Homo sapiens: one gene and its partner. The protein of the gene in region 1 purifies or fractionates together with the protein of each later gene. This does not show direct contact. Each region holds a gene or a part of one and is shown on either strand. Other genes may lie near its edges.

What was found.
Region 2: the proteins of FHIP2B (region 1) and MYO5A purify together in Homo sapiens (affinity purification with mass spectrometry; one large-scale study listed by BioGRID and IntAct). This does not show direct contact.

Annotation. Positions count from the first base shown.
Region 1 is NC_000008.11:22,092,133-22,095,946, forward strand, and holds part of FHIP2B (FHF complex subunit HOOK-interacting protein 2B), read left to right. Parts: intron 1-2,307; coding exon 2,308-2,386; intron 2,387-2,477; exon of another isoform or gene 2,478-2,721; intron 2,722-3,814. UniProt on the Homo sapiens protein: Able to activate MAPK/ERK and TGFB signaling pathways. May regulate the activity of genes involved in intestinal barrier function and immunoprotective inflammation. May play a role in cell proliferation.
Region 2 is NC_000015.10:52,319,070-52,322,883, reverse strand, and holds part of MYO5A (unconventional myosin-Va), read left to right. Parts: intron 1-1,374; coding exon 1,375-1,525; intron 1,526-3,541; coding exon 3,542-3,814. UniProt on the Homo sapiens protein: Processive actin-based motor that can move in large steps approximating the 36-nm pseudo-repeat of the actin filament. Can hydrolyze ATP in the presence of actin, which is essential for its function as a motor protein. Involved in melanosome transport.

The DNA of each region.
Region 1 (3,814 bases):
GACAAGATGCCCTGCGGACTGAGGGGAGTTTCCAGTTCTGTGAATGTCATCCCTCCCTCCCCATGTTGCAGTGGCCTTCTAAGCATATTCTTCCTGCCTTTACCTCCTCTCCCAAGGCCAACTGCCAGATGAGTCTTCCGAAAACACTGCTCAGAAGGTGCCAATGGCCGGGTGTGGTGGCTCATGCCTGTAATCCCAGCACTTTGGGAGGCCCAGGTGGGCGGACCACTTGAGGTCAGGAGTTTGAGACCAGCCTGGCCAACATGGTGAAACCCCGTCTCTACTAAAAATACAAAAATCAGCCAGGCGTGGTGGCACATGTCTGTAATCCCAGCAACTTGGGAGGCAGGAGAATCACTTGAACCCAGGAAGCGGAGGTTACAGTGAGCTGAGATGGTGCCACTGCACTCTAGCCTCAGTGACGGTGAGACTCTTTTTTTTTTTTTTTGAGACTCTGTCTCAGAAGAAAAAAAAAAAGTTGTCATTGACCTGCTCCCTGCTGCCTGCAAAAAATGACTGAGACTTCTTGGCTTGGCATTAGAGACTCCGAAGTCTCGCCAGCCCACCCCTTCCCCAGGCACACTTTGCAGAGTTCCTTCTGCAGGGACTGTCTTCCTTCTCTTGTTGATATTGACCTGGTTCTTCAAGTTTTAGTTGAGATGTGATCTTGGTAAAGCCTTCCCTGTTCCAGCCTGTTAGAAGTTACCCCTGTTTTTCTGAGAGGTCACTACTTTCCACCTCTCCTGCGGCCTCACACTACTTCCTTGTAGCTTCGTTATTCAATGCGGTTTTATATCGTCTTCTCCATGACACATTTCTTGAGGACTAGGTGTTAGTCATCCTCATGTTGCTTGTGGCATCTAGCATAGTGTCTTGTACATAGTGGGCACTTAGAATGAACAAATGATTTCATGAGTGGCTACTCAGTTCTGTGGTGCAGTAAAGTGTGAGGTCAGAGAGGTGTGGGCAGGCAGGGACACTGGAGAGGGCTTGGTGGAGCTGCTGGGGACTGAACCTCACTGGGGACTTTCACGATCCAGACAGTTAGTGGGATACAGAGCACCTTGGGCAGAGGAGTGGCCCCAGCAAAGACCTAGAGGCAGAAATGCACAGCTGTGGGGAGGGATGATTAGAATTCTTTTTTTCCTGAAAACATTTACTCTGCAAGAAAAGCGAAGGAATGGTGTTGTTGTTGTTGTTGTTGTTGTTTTTGAGAAGTTTTCAGGGAAAGTGATTGTTCTCAGTGCAAGGCCAGTATCAGCCATGGTGTAGAGATGGAGAGAGCACTCATGGAAAAGGGGGAGGTTAGGGGCTTGCCCAGAGCAGAACCAGAATTTTCCAGGGCTTGATAGAAGGAGCCGGTAGAGGAGGAAACGAGAACAGCACTGGCTGAGGAGTTGGGGTTGTGCAGGCTCAGGCTTTGGACACAAGATGAAAGCATGTAAGCATGTTATAAGGAAGGCACATTGTTAATATCATGCTAATGTTACCTACCCTTCCGGCTGAACAGAGCCTGTGGTGGTCTTGAACAGATTTTCATAGACTCTCAGATTGAGAGGAATGGAAAAGCTTTGTCTTTTTTTTTTTTTTTTTTTTTTTTTTGAGATAGGGTCTCACCTTGTCACCTAGGCTGGAGTGCAGCGCTGCGATCACAATTCACTGAAGCCTTGACCTCCCTGGGCTCAGGTGATCCTCGCACCCCAGCCTCCCAAGTAGCTGGGACTATAGGCAGACACCACCACGTCCTGCTAGTTTTTAAATTGTTTATAGAGACAGAGCTTCATCATGTTGCCGAGGCTGGTTTAAACTCCTGGACTCGAGCCGTCTGCCCACCTTTGCCTCACAAACTGTTGGGCTTACAGGCGTGAGCCACTGCACCTGACCTTTGCCACATTTTCGATCTGTATCATTTTGCTTTTCTTTGGGGGACTGCGCTCCCGTGTTCCTCTATGTGCCTCTACTGTAGCGTAACCATGCTGTGTTGAAATAATCTGTGTCTGTTTCCCCCAGCAACATTCTTAGCACCTCCAGGACAGAGACAGGACAGGATTGTGACATACAGCAAGAAAACAGCATTTCCAGGAGGGAGGGGTATCTAGGGAGAAGTGCCTGTCAGGAGATCCTTGGCAAGATGACAGTGTGTCCTGGAGGAAATGTGTTATTCCTCCCTTTGAAAGCCAGGGAGCAGGGTGCCTCCTCATGAGGAGGCCTAGCATGAACCTGACACTCAGAATATCTGTTCCCATGCGGGCAGGGGCTCCCTGGCCTTTGTGGCCCCCACTGAGGTTGTGTGTCTGCCCTCCGCAGCGCGAGCCCAGCATTGACCTGCTGCAGGCCTTCGTGGAGCACTGGAAGGGCATCACGCACTACTACATCGAGAGCACAGGTGCGGCCTGGCCCTCCCCAGCCCAGGGACCCTGGAGGGAGCGGGGAGGAAGGAGTGTGCAGAGTGTCACCATTCAGGTGTCCTGGGAAAGGTAACCTGCCCAGTCGTTCAGAATTGGAGCCGAGTTCACGGAGACAGAGAACCAGACAGACAGAAGACCCAGAGCCCTGGGCCACTCCACTCCTGATGATTTAGCTGCCGGTCCCACTCTGACCTTTTGGAAAGAGGCTGTGTGAGGAAGGAGTAGCCTGGTTGGGGGTCTCACTGGCCTGACTCTGCAAGGAAGAGGTGGCTGCACTTCCCCCAGCTTCCAGCTCCAGACCTTCAGGCCCCAGGTGCTTGTGCCTAGGATTTAATGATCAAAAGAAAAGAATTTAATAAATTCCCCTTTCCCCTGAGCCAGCTTAGGGGCAATGTCCTTGTAGAGATCTGGGGTAGGAGGAGAACGAAAACCAAGGTGGGTAACATGCCTGGGTCCCTCTCTCCAAGCTGACACCCCAAAGAGCCAAAGCCTTGGCACCTGGTCCCATCAGGACCGCTCACTGAGGGGATGGCATCTGAGTGGCTGCTCTGCAGTCATGAGGCTGCCATGGGTGGATACGGACTGGTTGCCAGGTAACCATATCCTGCATCCCTCACTTTTCCCTTCCTGGAGTTCATACTGGGGCTTGATCCCAGCCCACACCTTTCCTACAGGCTTTCTTTCCAGCCCGGGCCAGCCCAGGAAATTCAGAAATCTGTGGGACCCTCTGAGGGTTCTGCTAGACCAGGTTTCTCAATCTTGGCACAGTTGGCATTGGACCTGGAGCCTTCCCTGCGCGGGGCTGTCCTGGGCGGTGTGGGATGTGCAGCAGTAATTCTGGCCTCTACCCACTAGGTGCCAGTAGCACACCCCACCCCCGAATTGGGACAACCAGGAAGGTCTCCAGACATTGCCTCATGTTCCCTGGGGGGGAAAAGCGCACCCCTGGTTCTGAACCTATCTCTTCAGGTTAAAGATCTCTTGAAGGAGAGCCTCAGTCCACCAGCTCAGTAAGATCAGATCAGAACTGGCTGAAATTCACCTGGGGCTTCCCCCATCCAGCCCTTTCATTTCCAGAATGGTCCCTAGACCAGAAGGGTTGGAAGTGCGTGGGGCAGGCCGCCCTACTCAAGCTCCTGTTCCTTAAAGGAAAGCTAGGGGGTGCTCCAAGTCTAGCCCTGAAGCACCAGAACTTTCTTTAAAACACACACTGAGACTCTGACTGCAAAAGCCCCCACTAAGTAGCTTCCCCGTCAGGGCGTTGGTACAGGGAGCAGGACTGGGTCAGACCTGAAGGTGGTGGCACAGATGTTTTTTTCTGCTTTGTGAAAAACAGAGGCTTGCCTTCTCTGAGTGTCAGTGGGGGAGGCCCCAGGAGGTTCTCTCTCAGGCAGCTGCTGGAATTA
Region 2 (3,814 bases), on another chromosome or scaffold:
TGCACATTGTGCACATGTACCCTAAAACTTAAAGTTTAAAAAAAAAAAAGAAAATTTTAATATTAATACTCTTGGACAATAAGAGGACCTTAAAATCCTTTAACTCTAAAAAAAAAAAGGGTGATCAAAAATCATGTCTTTCGATTTGTCCAAAAAAACTCTATTGTTTTTGTTTGTGGGGATATGTTCATTAGTTGTTTGATAGACTTCAAATATTTCAAAACTATGTAGAATATTAATAATGACTATTAAGGGCTGCTTTAGTATGTGTCAGACAGCACTTACTGTATATGGTGTTATTTATGATCATTAATTCTTACAGCATCTCTGTGAGGTAGGAATTATAGTCCAGTTTTACAGATGAGGAAGCCAAGGCTCACTGGGGCTCATTGATTTACCCAAGTTCTCTTGGCCACAAGGAGCAGAGCTGGGATCCTGGGTCTGGCACCGCTGAGGGCCCATGACCCTAGCCAACTGCCCTCCATGCCTCCCATCCCTTTGCCAGGAGGGCAGCAGAGAAGGTGCCCAGCGGCACTTCCTGAGCACTGACAGGCAGATGATGGGAAACACAGAGATGAGCAAGGCCTAGTCCCTGAGAAGATGGGGCCAACAGACCAGAATCCCTCAGAGGGGTCGTTGACTGCATCCTATCAGTCCCCACTTTCGGACCAGTCATTAAGTAGGTGGTAAGGAGGCAGATGCTTGGCTGTAGGGAGAATCCTCAGAGTAAGCACTTGCCTTTATCACGTAGCATCAGGCAAACAACGTGTTAAACTGCAAAGTGACTGGAAGAAGTGCCGCCCATTCAGTTCCATTTTAACAGATACCACCAAAGATTCCCTTCTAACCTCTGACTGAAAACCATGGTGTGGGTACTACGAAATAGAGTAAAGAGAACTTTTTGTATGTATTCACTAGTCTCTGTAGAAATCGGTCTATTTCAAGATTATATATGTCCTTTGGGTGTAGTTTTTAAGAATAGGACTATAAAGAACTGAAGTTAAGAGATAATTTAGATAATTTAGTGTTTGACAGTAAACCTGCTGTTTCAGAAGTGAAACACTCTATTTTTTTTTTTTTTTTTTTTTTTTAGTTAAGTTCCTCCAATTTGCTTCATTGACATTGCTATTGGGAAGACTTAAATGCTAGGTTGCCAAGTTAAGGTATTGTTCAAAAGCTAGTAAGAACTGGAGGGGGTTATGATGGAAGCAAACAAACACACATCAGCATTTGAGAATGTCAGTCCTGGCATTAGTGGGGAAGCTCCTTGGACAGAGCAGAAAAGAGCATGAAGATGCTGATCAAATTGGAGATAGTTAAACTGAAGAGACAGGTTACTTCATGTGTATCATTAACTTTGCCTTATGACTCTAGGGCTTTATGAAGCACAACACATCTCGCCAGAATGAACACTGCCTCACCAATTTTGACCTGGCTGAGTATCGGCAGGTGCTGAGTGACTTGGCCATTCAGATCTACCAGCAGCTCGTGCGGGTGTTAGAGAACATCCTTCAGCCAATGATTGGTAAGGCCAGGGCCCCACTGGGCATTGCAGCCTGCCTATCATTCATGCCCATCGATAAGTAGCCACCAGTGGCACATGTTTCAGGGCAGGTATTCATTTGGGGAGCATAAAGTAGTAAGATACAGGGCTAAAATTAGCCGAGGAATCCCAGAAACCCAGCCATAGTTAACTGGGATACATCGAAATCACTGTTTCCACAAGACTGAAACAGTAGTATATGGTTTCCTTCCCTAATGTTTACTGTTTAAATTCAGTTGAATGCATTGAATTTTAAAAAATTGTCTTAAGTTACCAAACATTGTTATCTTCCAGCAAATTATCAGCAGGCTCCCTTTTTTTTTTTTTTGAGACAGAGTCTCGCTCTGTCGCCCAGGCTGGAGTGCAGTGGCGCGATCTCAGCTCACTGCAAGCTCTGCCTCCCGGGTTCACGCCATTCTCCTGCCTCAGCCTCCCGTGTAGCTGGGACTACAGGTGCCTGCCACCACGCCCAGTTAATTTTTTGCATTTTTAGTAGAGACGGGGTTTCACCGTGTTAGCCAGGATGGTCTCAATCTCCTGACCTTGTGAGCCACTCACCTCGGCCTCCCAAAGTGCTGGGATTACAGGTGTGAGCCCCTGCACCCAGCCTATCAGCAGGCTCTTAAGGCTACTTCCAGCTACACTTTCTTTCCCCATGCATGCATTTTCCATGTTTCCACAACTTCTTCATTTCCCTTCTGTGGGCTCATAGTGTTCCCTTTGCTTTCATAGGCCACAGTTAACTAGCTATTTGAGACATCAAAAGCTGAAGAAGCCATGGGAGATGGCAATGTTTTCTTCAGATGTCCCTTAAAACGTCATTAAAGCACCCTAGGTTGGCAAAAATTTAGGAGGTAACACAGATACCAAGGTCAACTTCAGCCAGTTTTTCTATTGCTTTGCCTGTTTCTATTGGCTGAATAAGAAGTTCGCCTCAAAGAAGCCCCAATCTAAATCCTTACCCCCATCTCCCAGTCATTTAACAGCAACAACAAACATGCCGGTTCTAGGGAATCTGTGTTTAGCACAATTAAATAGCAAGATGAACCAGACGTGGCCTTTGCTCTCAAGGGGCTTGCTGTCAGGGAGTGGACATCTCAGAAACATTCTAAGGGAGGCATAAGCCAAATGCTAAGAGAGCACAACAGGGAAGCAGCCGGGCCACAGGTGAGAAGACGAATTCTGGGAGATGGAGGTCAGCCCAAGGGCCCACTGCTGTTGTGGGAAACCCAGAATAAGGAAGGGCCCAGCTCTCCAGACCCATACCACTCCCCTCTCCCACGTTTTCTCCAAGATGGTTGTCAGTGCCCTGCTTTTCTTACTGTTTTTGCCTCTGGGGCTCAGATAACATGGAGAATGCTTATCTTAACCCGAACTGCTACCTACCACTCTCAAAAGCCCACCCAAGACACACACACTTGTTCTATCACAAGGCTACTGCTTCTTAACGCTTCTTATTTTAGAAAAGACACCATTAAGTTTACTTAGATTCATAGTAAATTTTTGCAATTAAGAATTATTCCTTCAGTAAAGTTTAAAATCCGGAAGCCCTTTTGTAGTGAAGTTCCTTTTCCCTCTATTTTGGCACCCAGATCATTTTTTTCTTTTTTGAAATGGAGTCTCTCTCTGTCACCCAGCCTGGAGCCCAGATATGTGGTCTCAGCTCACTGCAGCCTTTGCCTCCCAAGTTCAAGTGATTGTCCTGCCTCAGCCTTCTGAGTAGCTGGGATTACAGGCACACGCTACCACGCCTGGCTAATTTTTGTATTTTCAATAGAGACGGGGTTTCCTTATGTTGGCCAGGCTGGTCTTGAACTCCTGGCCTCCAGTGATCCACCCACCTCGGCGGCCTCCCAAAGTGCTGGGATTACAGATGTGAGCCACCGTGCCCAGCTAATTTTCCTAAGTTGAATGTGCATGTGTTTGTGCACATGGATATGTGCACATGAAAGGTTCCCTTCCACATCATCTCCTCTAACAATTGAAATACTCCTGCAGTCTCAGGCATGCTGGAACATGAAACGATTCAGGGCGTGTCTGGGGTGAAGCCCACAGGGTTGAGAAAGCGAACCTCCAGTATCGCCGATGAGGGCACCTACACACTGGACTCCATCCTCCGGCAGCTCAACTCCTTCCACTCGGTCATGTGTCAGCATGGCATGGACCCTGAACTGATCAAGCAGGTGGTCAAGCAGATGTTCTACATCATAGGGGCCATCACCCTGAACAACCTTCTCCTGCGGAAGGACATGTGCTCCTGGAGTAAAGGCA